2 linked regions of the Homo sapiens genome follow. The protein of the gene in region 1 interacts with the protein of each later gene in a pairwise test. Each region holds a gene or a part of one and is shown in the gene's direction. Other genes may lie near its edges.

Region 1 (7,657 bases):
GATGGAGGGAGTTCCCCCATACTGTTCTTGTGAGAGTGAGTTCTCAAAAGATCTGGCTGTTTGAAAATGTGTAGCACCCCTCTCCTTTGCTCTCTCTCTCCTGCCAGCCATGTGAAGAAGTGCTTGCTTCCACTTGCCTTCAGCCATGATTGTAAGCTTCCTGAGGCCTCCCCAGAGGCAGAAGCCTATAAAGCCTTCTGAACCATGAGCAGATTAAACCTATTTTTTAAATAAATTACCCAGTCTTTATAGTAGTGTGAGAACACACTAATACAGGGTGTCTGTGACTTAAGACTTCTGCTAAGTGGTTAGAGCCTCTGACAACTCCAAATGGCCAAGTGACATATTGTTGAGTCCTCTGAGGGCAGAAGTCTATCTCCTCCTACTTTATCTGGGTTATGTTGCTAAAGCACCAAAAGGTAATTGGTATTTGTTGATTGAGGTTTTTGTTCTTTCACTGAACCAGTCAACCCTTTTGGAAATATAATTTTATATTTTAAAACTTCAGAACTATTCTGTATTCTTTAATCTCTCAGGGTCTTTATTACTGTTCTTTGTAGTAGAAATGATTTGGACTAGTTCTGAGTTGGCTGATTTAGAAGACAAGAAGTGCTGATTCTTCATTCATTCAACTTATCAAATATTTTATTGACACCTATGATGAGCCATTAATTGAATGTAGAATGTGAAGAAAAGGAAAGAATTCAGGCAGATACTAGCATCTTTCACCTAAGCAATTGGACAGGAAGAAAAGTTCTAATGCTCTATTGTTGCATAACAAACCATCTCAAAACTGAGTGGCTTAAAAGAATATTTTTTTGTTATTTCTCAGGATTCTTTGGGTTGACTGAGCTAAGCTCTGCTCTTCTTGCTTGAGGCAAGACCAGAACTAGAGAAAGGTGAGTGTAGTGTCTAAAGTACAAAATTTAAGGAGGCACTCACTCTTGGAGTCTTGGAGCCCAATTATGAAGGTCAATGCCTCCTTACATTTTGCACCAAAATGCCTCACTTGCTTCACGCTGATCTTGACCCTGGCTTGGGGTCTCTCTCATGTGTCTTCAGTAGGATGGCAGCTAGAGCTGGAGTCACCTGAAGGTTCAGCTGGGCTGGACATCCAAGTTAGTGTCTCCACTCACAAGTCTGGTGCCTTCTTCACTCACATGGCTGAAACAGCAGGGAGCTGGCCAGGCATCTCTTTCCTTCTCCATGTATCCTCTACACATAGTAAGCATGGGCTTCCTCACAGCATGCGAGTCTGAAGGTGGTCCAGATGTCTTACGTGGTGACTGGCTTCTGCAGAGCAAGTATTCCAAGAGGCCTGATAAGGTTTGGCTCTGTGTTCCCACCCAAATCTCATCTTGTAGCTCCCATAATTCCCACATATTGTGGGAGGGACCCAGTGGGAGATGACTGAATCATGGGGGTGTATCTTTCCCATGCTGTTTTCATGACAGTGAATGGGTCTCATGAGATATGATGGTTTTAAAAACAGGAGTTTCTCTGCACAAGCCCTCTCGTTGCCTGCTGCCATCCATGTAAGATGTGATTTGCTCCTCCTTGCCTTCCACCATAATTGTGAGGCCTCCCCAGCCATGTGGAACCCTAAGTCCAGTAAACCTCTTTCTTTTGTAAATTGCCCAATCTTGGGTATATCTTTATCAGCAGTGTGAAAACGGACTAATACAAGGCCCGAGTAGAAGCTGCAAGGCTTCTTGTGATCTAGCCTTGGAGGCCCCAGAATGTCAGTCACTTTCACTATGTCCTATTGGTCAAAGTCAGTAAGGCCTACCCAAGACTCAAGGGGAAGGGGATTATACTCTGCCTTTTGATCTGAGTAGTAAGGATGTAAAGGTAGGGAGAAAAGTGATGGAGACCAATTTTGGAGGGTATCTACCACAGTAAGCCCAGTAAACAAATAGGTTTTGGGGATGGAAATTTAGAAGTGCTCTTGGGGAAGCTTAAGTTTGAGATGTCCTTGGAACCAAGTGAATATATACATATGGAGATCAGAGAAAGACTGAGATTGAAAACATCAAATTAGGAGATGCAATTTAAAATCAAGGCACTAGATGTGGTTACCTAAGGAGTTGAGAGACAGAAGGAGCCACCAGGCAGTAAAATGAGAGAACAGGGGAGTATGGAGTTTCGGAAGCCAAAATTTTAGAAAGCGCTTTGAAAAGGAGGTGATCAGTCATGGCCAATGCTGCTGAAACGTCATATAAGCTGAGGACTGAGAAGTGACAATCAGGTAGAGCAAGGTTTTGGTCACTAGCGACTCTACATAATCGAATGGAACTCGATTATGTAGAGTGAATCGAGTGGGGAAAGTGAGTAAAAGCAAGATTTTCAAGTTTTCATGAAAATGGGATAGTGACTGAATAGGGACGTGGAGTCTAGAAGGTTTTACTATTATGTTTTTTTAAGATAGAAGACAGTATAGCCTATTGTGGTGAATGGAAATGACACAGTAAAAAGTGGGCTGAGAACCCCTCAGGCTTGCAATGCTAATGCTATGTGACTGGGATGCAGAAGTCCCCAAAGCATGCAGAGCTCTTGGGCCTCCCTTAAACCCCACTGAGAGCTGTATCAAGGCCAAGGTGGGGCAAGTGTTACCAAAAACACAGCAACAACACAGAAAAGAAACATGTTAACTTTGAGAGCAGTGATTCTCAAAGTTTGAGAGCAGCATTCCCTGAGAACTTGTTAGAAATGCATATTCTTGGGACCCACCAGTCCAACTAAATCAGAAACTCCAAAAACTAGGGATCTGAGTTTTAGGATACGTGCTAAGGTTTGGGTCCCACTATTCTAAAGGAACTCAACAAAAATTCAAGTAAAGATGAAACCGAGTGCTGACTTTGTTCCTTATGGGCCTAAAATAACAAAGCTTTAAAGACAAGAGGGGATTTTTCAATTGTCTAATTGGCTTCGAACCTTACCTGTGGAGGGATCCCAGACACAGAGAAGGTGTCTGAGTTGTCCAAGTCCTCCAGGCCGGACTGAGAGGACAACTCCAAATAATAGAGAAAAAAAAAGAGACAGAGAGCCAGGGATATGGTTGTTTTGATGTGCCATGAAGTTGCAGCCTTTCTGGATTTTTTTAGTATCGATTTATATTGCTGTTTGTCTACCAATACTCAAATCAGAGCAAGACGGTCCGCCTTACCTCAGTCTGGCTCTTTTAAGGTTTGATTTTGGTTTTGGGGACTGCAGAGGTGCAGCTTCCCACGGCAGACCAAGCGCCTCTGAGGAACGCAGCAGCTTCAGCAGGTACAGGAAGATTTCCCGCAGCCGGAGGAATCTCCTAGTGCTGGGCCTCCGGCTGTGACTTTTGCCATTTCAAATTCACTTGGCCTCTAGGGAGAGGCAGACAGCCCGACGCTGAGCGCGTCGGAGCCCCGGCTCCCTCTGCTTCTGGAGAGGAGATTTAGCCTTAATTTTTGTGACAGATGGAGTTGATAGTCTCTCCACGGAAAGGGGAGGAAAAAAGCGCCAGTTTTTGACAGGCCGCAGACGCCCGCTGCCTCTGGTGGCGGAAGGCTGCGTTGCGCCCCAGTTAAGGTAGCTCGGAAACTCCCTCGCCGAGAAGGCAGAGGTTTCCTCTGCAGAGCAGCCTCCCTTAAATATACTGAGGGGCTGAAACTTACACTTTAATATAAACCTTTGGTGCGTGCCCATTTATTCCGTCTTCTGTCCTGTGACTGCGGCCAGGTGGTAATTGCTCGACATTCCTGAATATTTTTAATGCTAGTTAAATTTTTTCATTATTGCACGTGTTGCAAGCTTATCTTCCTAAGAAATTATTTCGGTTGATTGGATTTCGGTCTTGCAATTTGAAAACGATGCCTGGCGCACGGGCGGTACCTGCCAGATGGCCTAGCTGGGGCTGGGGGGTGGCGGGCGGGTTGTAAGCATCTCATCAACATCTCCCTAATAAAGTGTGTGCTTCTTTCTTGTATGCTTCTTTAAAACAGTTTCAGTCTCACATTTTATCTCTGGATTCTCCCCTTCCCCTCTGTGGTGATCAAGACCCAAAGACAGGGAGCCTGGAAGATAAACTGAGTTCTGAATCCAGTCGAAAGCACAGATGGGGGCCAGCGAGAATTAATAAAACTACAAAAAAAAAAAAAAAGAAAAAAAAAACAAACAAAAAAGGCCCGTGGCTGAGCCGGATGCAAACAGCTGCCCCTAAGCCCTGCCCGCTGGTTCTGTGCGCGAGCTGGGGCTGCATATCCGAGCCTCCTTAAGAGTAGGAGGAGCTCCGGGCCTCCGTCAGGCTCCCTAAGCCGTTCCTTTCAAGCCCTGAATGCCTGAATGTGAGCTGCCCACCACCCTCCCGCCCTCCCCCACTCCGCAACCCCACTCCAGCGGCTCGTAAAAAAAAAAAAAAAAACTTTCAACAACAACAGGCAGGACCAATAGCATCTCGAAAAGCCGGGAAAGGGGGCCGAGCAAAGGGCGAAAGAGAGTGGAGAAAGGAGAAAGCGGGCAGGCTCGGAGCGCGCGGGGCCGGGGCTCGGCGAGCCGGAGGAGCGTTGCTAATGTTTTTGTTTGTTTGCTTTTCCATGCATGCATAATGAGGGGGCACCGCGGCACCACGCGGGGGCTCCCGGCCCACTTTTGTATTTAAAGCCTCGCTGCTAACGAGTCTGCAGCCGGGCTCAGCGGATCCGCTCCCCGGGCTCTTGGTCACCCGAGAAGCTGCCGCCGAGTGAAGCCAGGGAGCCGCTCTCCGGCAGCGCCGACTTTCTTGTTCTCCCCGCGCTTCCCGGAAAGAGCTCCCCGGAGCTCTGCGGAGGCCGGGGTTGCCGCGGGCGGAGGGGGAGGGGACGCGGGGCGGCCGGGCCGCGGGAAGGCGGGCAGCGCGCGGACGCCGGGCCAGGAAGCGGCGCGATGCGAGAGACCGCGGCGGCGGTGGCGGCGGCGAGGCACTGAGCCCAGGAGGAAGGAGCCGCCGCGGCCGCAGCGCGAGCAGCCGGCACGGGGACAGCCGGCCGCACAACGGATCTGCAGGCGCGGAGCAAAATGCACCCGCCGCGCCGCGCGGTCCTGCAGCCCCGCCACGGCCCCGCGGCCCGCACCCCCCCGGGGCGACAGTGAGCCTCTCCCGCCACCACCGGGGGCCGAGCGGAGGGCTCTCGGGTGGGAGAGCGGGACCAGATCTCGACAGCTGTTCATTTCCAGGAAGCCACCGCAGCCAGAGCGAAAGGGGACCTTCTGCCACCAGCGGGGCATCAGCCAGCGGCGCGCATGGATTTATGAAGACACTCATGCAAGAAGTGGGCAGGACTTGGACAAACTTTTCCACCGGCTCCGCGTCCGCCGCTCCCCGCGCCTCGTCTCCTTTCCCCTCCTCTCCCGGCGGCCGCCGCTGCCCGCGATGGTGGCCGCGCTGCTGGGCGGCGGCGGCGAGGCCCGCGGGGGGACAGTGCCGGGCGCCTGGCTGTGCCTGATGGCGCTGCTGCAGCTGCTGGGCTCGGCGCCGCGGGGATCGGGGCTGGCGCACGGCCGCCGCCTCATCTGCTGGCAGGCGCTGCTGCAGTGCCAGGGGGAGCCGGAGTGCAGCTACGCCTACAACCAGTACGCCGAGGCGTGCGCGCCGGTGCTGGCGCAGCACGGCGGGGGCGACGCGCCCGGGGCCGCCGCCGCCGCTTTCCCGGCCTCGGCCGCCTCTTTCTCGTCGCGCTGGCGCTGCCCGAGTCACTGCATCTCGGCCCTCATTCAGCTCAACCACACGCGCCGCGGGCCCGCCCTGGAGGACTGTGACTGCGCGCAGGACGAGAACTGCAAGTCCACCAAGCGCGCCATTGAGCCGTGCCTGCCCCGGACGAGCGGCGGCGGCGCGGGCGGCCCCGGCGCGGGCGGGGTCATGGGCTGCACCGAGGCCCGGCGGCGCTGCGACCGCGACAGCCGCTGCAACCTGGCGCTGAGCCGCTACCTGACCTACTGCGGCAAAGTCTTCAACGGGCTGCGCTGCACGGACGAATGCCGCACCGTCATTGAGGACATGCTGGCTATGCCCAAGGCGGCGCTGCTCAACGACTGCGTGTGCGACGGCCTCGAGCGGCCCATCTGCGAGTCGGTCAAGGAGAACATGGCCCGCCTGTGCTTCGGCGCCGAGCTGGGCAACGGCCCCGGCAGCAGCGGCTCGGACGGGGGCCTGGACGACTACTACGATGAGGACTACGATGACGAGCAGCGCACCGGGGGCGCGGGTGGTGAGCAGCCGCTGGACGACGACGACGGCGTCCCGCACCCACCGCGCCCGGGCAGCGGCGCTGCTGCATCGGGCGGCCGCGGGGACCTGCCCTATGGGCCTGGGCGCAGGAGCAGCGGCGGCGGCGGCCGCTTGGCGCCCCGGGGCGCCTGGACCCCACTCGCCTCCATCTTGCTGCTGCTGCTTGGGCCGCTCTTTTAGCCCTCGCGCCCCCCGCCGTTGGCTGCGGGAGAGCCCGCGTCCCACTCCCGTGCTCGCCTCGACCCCGCGCCGGGCACCTGTGGCTTGGGACAGATAGAAGGGATGGTTGGGGATACTTCCCAAAACTTTTTCCAAGTCAACTTGGTGTAGCCGGTTCCCCGGCCACGACTCTGGGCACTTCCCCTGAAGCTCCTCTCCGGAGCTTGACTTCTTGGACCTCCTCCCCCGCCCCAATTCCAAGCTCCAGAAACTCCCAACTCGTCTGCCGTCCAGAAAGCTAGCTGCAGTGTTCAGGACGTCCGGGAGGAAGCAAGCATGTGGGGGACAGAACAGTAGTCCTGGACTCGAAAGGGAAGGTGCTGACCAGTGGGGCCTTAGCAATTTGAAGGGTTGGGAAGGAGGAATTATATTTGCAAAGGGGCTGTCTATTAGCATATTTCCTTTGAGGGGGCAAAAAAAAGTGCCAGTATCGACTTTTACAGATTGTGGCCAGTGAGGATATTATAATCCTATGTAAACAGAAAAGTCCCACTTACCGATTCATTCTTTCACTGTTTGTATCTGCGCCCAGAATTCTCAGTGACGTGGGGGTGAGGGTGGGTGGCGATTGCCTTAGAGGGAACCCCTAAATTGGTTTTGGATAAGTTTGAGCCCTTGACCTTAATTTCATTGCTACCACTCTGATCTCTTAGCACATTTCTTAGGATTAAGGGTCCAAAAATGCTGATCTAAGGGGTTGCCATGGTGTTGAACAATGCAACTTTTTATTTAAAAAAGCTCTGCACTGCCATGTATGAAAGTCTCTTTATGATGTTTGTTTTTTTGTCATTTTTGTTCTTTACATCAAGAAATTTTATGTTTAAATATGCGGAGAATGTATATTGCCTCTGCTCCTATCAGGGTTGCTAAACCCTGGTACATCGTATATAAAATGTATTAAAACTGGGGTTTGTTACCAGTTGCTGTACTTTGTATATAGAATTTTTATAAATTGTATGCTTCAGAAATAATTTATTTTTAAAAAGAAATTAAAAGTTTTAAACTCACATCCATATTACACCTTTCCCCCCTGAAATGTATAGAATCCATTTGTCATCAGGAATCAAAACCCACAGTCCATTGTGAAGTGTGCTATATTTAGAACAGTCTTAAAATGTACAGTGTATTTTATAGAATTGAAGTTAACATTCTTATTTTCAAGAGAATTTATGGACGTTGTAGAAATGTACAAATGCATTT
Region 2 (6,899 bases), on another chromosome or scaffold:
TCTCTTGGAGGGAGGATGGAGAACGTTGGGTGTGGGGACAGGGGACAAAGGCATCTCTTGTCTGTAGGATGCCCACTAGGACTGGATCAGTGGGGGCTCAGATCCCCCCACCCCGGCAAAAAAAAAAAACAAAAAAAACCAAAAAAAAAACCTAGTCTAGGCAGAAGCAAAGCCTCAAGGCATGGAGATCCCCACCGAGGCTGTGGGGGTGGTGAGCAGAGCAGAATGTGAAGGTGGGGTGAAGCCCCCTCGCCGGCCACCCCTGCTCTTGCCCTCCCATCCCCGCTGGTGCCCGGGACTAGTAAGTCTCAGAGGCCCCTCTAGCTCCACCCAGCTGAGCTGCCCTGATCAGTGTTTCTGCCTTTAATCAGGGGCGAAGTGGTCTGGGGCTGGCTGGAGGAAGAGTTAGTGTTTAGAAAAGGAGGAGGGGGAGCAGACAGGAGGGGAGAGCAGAGGAGCGGGGAGGAAAAAGGGCTGGAGACAACACTTCTTTCCTTCCCTCGGAAAACTTTTGCTCATCACCAGCTCCTCTGCTGCCCCGGCAAAGCCCAGCAACACTGCCTCCGGACAGGTTCCCCTTGCTTTCGGCTCTTGCCTGCGGGGTGCGGGGCCATAGGCAGAGCCTTCGGCTTGGCTACAGGGAGGGAGTCCAGCTCATGCATCTCGATCTGGCCCCAGAGTTGGCAGGTCCAGTCCCTGCAACCTGTGTAGATCGCCTGCCACGCCATGCTATGAGGACCTGCGGGCTGCTGGCCTCATCTCTGTAATCCCGGGGGCCTGTACACGGAGCATGGCTCTCGAGAGAAGGGGAGGGGGGAGGAGGGGAGGGATGCGCAGATAGAGGAGGGGGCGTCCAGCTCCTCCAGCCTGCCGTTCCACAGCCCCCAGGATCTGCTTGCAAATGGCAGACTGTACCGCTTCTCCCCAAGGGACTACATTGGCATTTTCGCGCCTTCTGTGCAGACTTAAAGTCTGTGACAGTCACCAACCTCCCCTCCCTACCGCTCCTAAGCTACCCTTTCTCAGTGTCTGCTTGCTGAAAAGAAAGCTCCGGCCTCCTGAATTTACAAACGCTTTATTAAGATTAGAGCAAGCCAACAGAAATCTTCCTGGCTTGTAGGTCCTGTGAGACAAGAAAGTCCCCTCCCATCCCTCAAGTGTCCCTGCATGGGGCTCTTGAAGAGGGCCCGGGTCCAGTGGAGCCTGGGTGCCCGCCTTGGAGATCCTCTAGCTGGCGGGGGCAAGGGCTCTGGGGTGCAGCTGTTGGAGGAATGGCTGGAAGGGGTTGTGACCAGGCCCTGTCAGCACAGTGCTTTTCTGCTTACAAAAACCGGAGTTCCTTTCAGAGACAGGTGGGACATTCCTGTTTATGGGCTAAGAAACAGGGCTCACAGATGGAAGAGACTGGGCCCTTGGTGGGCACGAAATGGAGATAGGATTAGAGAGCAGGTGCCCCCCAAGCCAAGGCAGTGCCCTTTCAGCGTAAGCCTGTGACATTTTGACAGACTCCCTTGGGCGAGAATACCCTCCTCTGGCCTCCCTCCCTTTCCTAAACTGGGGAGGGCTGTGGTGGGGCTGGGGGCGGGGGTGGGAAGGGGGAAGAACCTGGATGGGGAAGGGAGGAGTCTAGGTATGTGTGTGGGTGGGGACACTGGGGCCCCCTAAGTGCTCCATGCAGTCCAGGGAGTCTCCTCTCTGCGGGACTTTGGCAAGAGCCTGGGAGGCCCTTGCCCCAGGGCTACCCAGCCCTGAGATCCTCCACCCCTCCTTGGCTTCTGGCTGAGAACTCAGCTCTTCCAGGTCTGCCTGCTGTTGGGATAATTTTGGAGGCTGAAGTCAGGGGCCTCGAAGGGAGGGAAGAGAGGAACCCTGGTCAGGAAGACCTTGGCGATCACCATGCAGTGGACATTGGCACCCAGGGTTGGGCCTGTCAGCCAGACACTCTCGTTCTAGGCCAAGGGCCTTGGGCAAAGGACCTTCCATCACTGAAGTTGGTTTCTTGACTTGAGGAAAGAGTCCACGGAAGAAAGTAGGGTCACAGGAATGCAAGGGCATGTGGCAGGCACACAGTGGGCACCCCAACTGCTCCCTACAGCCTGTCCCCAAAGCCGTTCCCAGCAGCCCCTACCTATCTGGGCATTCTGCAGATAACATCAGGGAAGGGATATCTTCCACCAGGGGCTGGGAGTTTCCCTCCAGCCTCCTTGGAGCCAGCCCAGAGCAGCTCTGGTCTCTGTCCATCCCTGTACCCATCCCGAGTGCCTTACTGGAGCACTGACTTAGGGGTGGTGGGCCTGGGGATGCCCATGGGCCTGCCTTCCCACATCTATGGCTAAGATGGGAAATCTGTGCTCAGACCTGCCAGGGCTGGACTAGAGGGCCAGGAGGTCAAAGCATCCAGCCTCCAGGTTCACAGTGGTGAGATCACACCCCCCTGCAGCACTGTGAAGAAGGGGAGGCCGCGAGCTGGGTGGGCACCCACTCCCTGCATCTAGGATATGTATGCAAATTAATATATGCAAATTAAGTATCCTAAACGACCCACCCAAAGATTGGGACGCCTGGGACCCTTCCCCCAGGAGGTGAAATATCTTTAATCCCCTCCTACCCCTCTCCCTCCCTATCTTTCTGAGCCTCCCCCATCCAGACTGGGTGCAGGGGTGCAGAGCTTTCCTCTCCAGCAGGGCTCTAAGCCTAAGCCGGGGGCAATGGGGAGGAGGGGTGTCTGAGGAGCACTCCCTCTCCCTGGGAGCTCTGCAGAGGAAGAGGGTCTCTGGCAATCAGCATCCTCTACCTCCACCTCTCCAGCGGGCGACCCCTCAGAGAAGGTCTCCCAGTGAGTCTGGAATACGTGCCGAGTGCCTGGAGTGCTATTGTGTGTATGTGAGAGCACATTGGTGAGGCTGCCCATGCATGCCACTGTGGACAAAGACAGATGCGATCGTGTGTGTGTGGGGACTGCGTATATGTTTTTGTCAGTGTGTGTGACCACGAGTCAGCTGGGTATGTGTGCTTGTGGGTATCAGGTGCATGGCTGTGCGTACATGTGTGCGTAAGAGTCGGTGCATTTGTGTTTCAGCGCGGCTAAGGCCCTGACTGAGATGCTGTGTGTGCGGGGGTGGGTGTGACTGAATGCGGGCACGGGTGTCCGTCTGTTTATACGTGTGTTTGCGTGTTTGGGTGTGCAGGTGGCTCTGCGTAAGCGTCTGTGTGCAGGGGGTCGGCACATGGGGGAGGATGCCCATGGTTGGGTAACCGCAGGTCCGCTTGACCCTCTGCCACCTAGGACTGTGTCTATACGGCGTCTGGGCTACAGTGTGTTTGAGTTGCCGTGTGCGTTTCCGTTGCGGGGTGTGGGTTGCCACGGGGCAACTGCATTTTTCTGCGTCTTCATGGCCAGGGGTACAGGGGGCGTCGGGCTTTTCCTGGGGGTTTTTCTGTGTGCGTGTGTAATTATGTGCTTAGTTCACATCTTCATAGTGCGCCTTTGTGTTTTCCTGGGTATCTAACCATTGCACGTGTGCCCGGGACTTCAGCGATAAGTGTTTCGGTGTTCCTGCGTGCGGATTTGTGCTCTCCGGGGAGGTCTGCGGCCCAGGTTCGATTCCTGCGACTTGTCCTAGGCAGGCCTGTATGTGCGCGGCGGCCGCGTGCTGTACAGTGTGAGGGAACGTGTACCAAACGCTCGCGGGATACCTGTGCCCGTCTAGCCAAGAGTGCACCCGTGTGCGCGAGCGGGCTTCTGGGACGCCGCCGTGGTCGGGGGCGGCCCTGCGAGGGGAGGGGGTCACAGGGACTGGCCGGCGCCGGCCCCGTGCGCACGGAGGCGGGGGCGGGGGGCGGGGGCCGCGAGGGGGGAGGCGGTACGAAAAGGGCGGCGCGCGCGGCGGCGGCGGCAGCTCCCCGGCAGCGGCGGTGGAGAGCGCAGCGCGCAGCCCGGTGCAGCCCTGGCTTTCCCCTCGCTGCGCGCCCGCGCCCCCTTTCGCGTCCGCAACCAGAAGCCCAGTGCGGCGCCAGGAGCCGGACCCGCGCCCGCACCGCTCCCGGGACCGCGACCCCGGCCGCCCAGAGATGACCGCGACCGAAGCCCTCCTGCGCGTCCTCTTGCTCCTGCTGGCTTTCGGCCACAGCACCTATGGTGAGTTCCCCGGCGGCCCGGCTCGCGCCCCCTCTGGGGAAGCCTGCGACTCCCCGCCGGCCGCCCGGTGCCCCGCACGCCCCGTCTCGTGAGCCCCAACTCCGCCCGTCCCGCCTAGCCCTAAGCCCCGCGCTGTGCCTGTCTCGCCCTACCCACCACGCTCGCATGCCAAGGCCCGTCCCAGGGGTCCCAGGGCGCAGGGGATGTGTGAGACCCCCAGCCCCTTCCCGCCCTGCAGAAGTGGCGCCAGAGGGGTGTCGGTGCGCTGAGCAAGGAGGTATGGAAAAATGGGGTGCTGTTGTGGAGTCTTCTATGAAAATACTCTGGGGTGCAACTTTGGGGTGTCCCTGTGTGAGCGTTCTGGAACAGGTCTCGGGGCGGGAGTGGGGGACGACTTTGCCGTCTTAGCCCCCAATTCCCAGAGAAGCCCAGCCTGAGCCCTTCCTGCGTGGCGCGTTTCTGTAGGTGAGGGGCTGCGACACTTCTGTCTGCAGCGGCCATCTGTCTCTGACAGCGAGAGAGTTGCCCCCTTCCTGCAGCGCCCCCCCACTCATTGCACCAGTGGTTGTAAGGGGGCTGTCTAGAAAGCTGGGGAGCTGGTTGAGTAAATGCACACAGTAGGTGCCTGTTAAAGTGTCAGAATCTCTAAGCAGTGTTGTTGCAACCTCAGCCCGCTAAGCAAAACCCTGTGTCGTCATCGTTTTTTTAATGCGAAGAGTCTGGGGTAGGGGAAAGAGGGAAGATTTGACCTGGGTGCCCGGCTTAATAGGGATGAACCTTAAAAAGAATGCAGACGCCTTACTGGGGCGCCCACCAGGTGAACCTGTCTGGGCTTTCCCGGAGTTGAACACCTCAAAATCTGCTCCTCTTTTCAGCTCAGGTTGCAAAAGTGACGGTCAGGCTGCATGCCCAGGGCTCAACATATTTCCCTCCACGGTCCCCGTCCCCGCTGTTAGGAGGACTTGAGGTGTCGTATTTGCTTTTGGGAGTCCGAGGAGAAGGTGTTTCTCCTGCTCCTAAGAACGAGGGAGAGTGTACTGTGGTCATTTCATTGCTGGGAACGTGGCAGAGATGTTTTTCCTGAGTGCACTGAGCCCCATCCATGCTCGGATAGGAAGTGCCTACTGTGTGCCAGGCTGGTAGGACCCAAGAGGGCTGTTGGTGCCCTCGAGGGCAGTGGTGGGCTGTGTGGGCGAAGACAGCCTTTGCCTTGGCCTGGGGCCTGGTGGGGTGAATTGTATAACCTTTCTTGTACCTCAGGGGCTGAATGCTTCCCGGCCTGCAACCCCCAAAATGGATTCTGCGAGGATGACAATGTTTGCAGGTAATAGAGTGGCTCCTCAGAGGCAGCTTGTAGGGGCCACGCAGAAGCCTGGGGAGTCGTGAAGTCAGGCAGAAAAAAATAGGGGGCTTGGCCACTACGCTGCAGCAAACAGCTTCCGGGCCCCTGCAGAAAACTGGTGGGGCGAGCTGGGGAGATGGGGGGGGCGGGGGGGGGGCAGCCACAGCTCCTGTCTGCGTTCTCAGAGGTGGGGGGGCAGGTGGGACCACTGCAGGCCACTGCGGCAAAACGCAGCACTCCCCCGGGATCTCGGGGCCCCTCCAAGTCGGCCCCCTCAGCTTGGCATGTTTTCTCTTTAAGTTTTCCCATTCAGGTGGCTGGTGTTTACTTCCCAGGACCACCGGCTGCCACTGTGCAAAGACCCCCAAGGGTCCTTGGTTCCACAGAAAGTAGCCTGAGCTGCCTCTCTACCCCTGCCCTCTTCATATGTCCCCACCTTTCTCCCCCACCCATTGCAGGTGCCAGCCTGGCTGGCAGGGTCCCCTTTGTGACCAGTGCGTGACCTCTCCCGGCTGCCTTCACGGACTCTGTGGAGAACCCGGGCAGTGCATTTGCACCGACGGCTGGGACGGGGAGCTCTGTGATAGAGGTTGGCACTCGCCTTTGTTCACCTCAGCTCTGCGTCCTTACCTGCCTGCCCTAGCCCCTACCACCTCCTCCCAGTCTCCTGTTGCTGGTGTTCCTCACTTCCTCATTCCTGCACACTCCGTGCCCTGTATTCTAAAGATCTGTTTATAAATTTCCTGTGGGTACCGAATGCCTCCTCAGAGGTAGGGACTTTATTTTGCTCTTCTCTGCGCCATCAGCACCCAGCACCTAGAGGGAACATGGCGTGGGGGCCAGGGAGCTGCCTGTTGAATAAAGAGTCACAAAATACACATACAGCTGGGCCGGTGGGACCACAGACCCCAGGCTGCCTGTCCAGGTCATGGAAGCCCAGTGATGGACAGGGCTCTGGGGATCTCAGAGCTAAGACTCCCTAGAAAAGCACACGCAAGACTGTAAAGAGGCTGCAAACAAACAAACGGGGTGGGGGGTGGCCAGCACTGCTCAGTGGTTGAGGGGCAGGTGCTGAGTCAGGGCCAGGAGGACAGGGCTGGGGGGCCTGGACTGAGTGGGTCAGGTGTAGGGGGAGGCTGCAGTTGGGAAAAGCTGAGAAAGGGTTAAAGTGAAGATGGGTGTTATCTGTTGATTTCATTAATTTATGCAATCTTTGCCTCCATTACCCCAAGCAATTGAGAGTTGGCTGTCACTGCATTTTCAGGCTGCGAAATGTTCGTCTAAGCCCATTTTCATTTGGCAAAACCAGCCCTAACGTTTGAGCAAACTGAAGTCCACAAAAAAACTCCCAGCTGTGTAGCAGCCTGCCCTCAGGGCCCCTGTCCCTCAGTCCCCAACATTAGTAAAGACGGTACAGAT

The links.
Region 2: the proteins of GAS1 (region 1) and DLK1 interact in a two-hybrid assay, tested with the Homo sapiens proteins (one study listed by BioGRID).

Annotation. Positions count from the first base shown.
Region 1 is NC_000009.12:86,944,503-86,952,159, reverse strand, and holds the start of GAS1 (growth arrest-specific protein 1 precursor), read left to right. Parts: upstream 1-4,653; 5' UTR 4,654-5,380; coding exon 5,381-6,418; 3' UTR 6,419-7,657. UniProt on the Homo sapiens protein: Specific growth arrest protein involved in growth suppression. Blocks entry to S phase. Prevents cycling of normal and transformed cells. Binds 20(S)-hydroxycholesterol (20(S)-OHC).
Region 2 is NC_000014.9:100,722,998-100,729,896, forward strand, and holds the start of DLK1 (protein delta homolog 1 isoform 1 preproprotein), read left to right. Parts: upstream 1-3,894; 5' UTR 3,895-4,071; coding exon 4,072-4,138; intron 4,139-5,398; coding exon 5,399-5,462; intron 5,463-5,938; coding exon 5,939-6,069; intron 6,070-6,899. UniProt on the Homo sapiens protein: May have a role in neuroendocrine differentiation.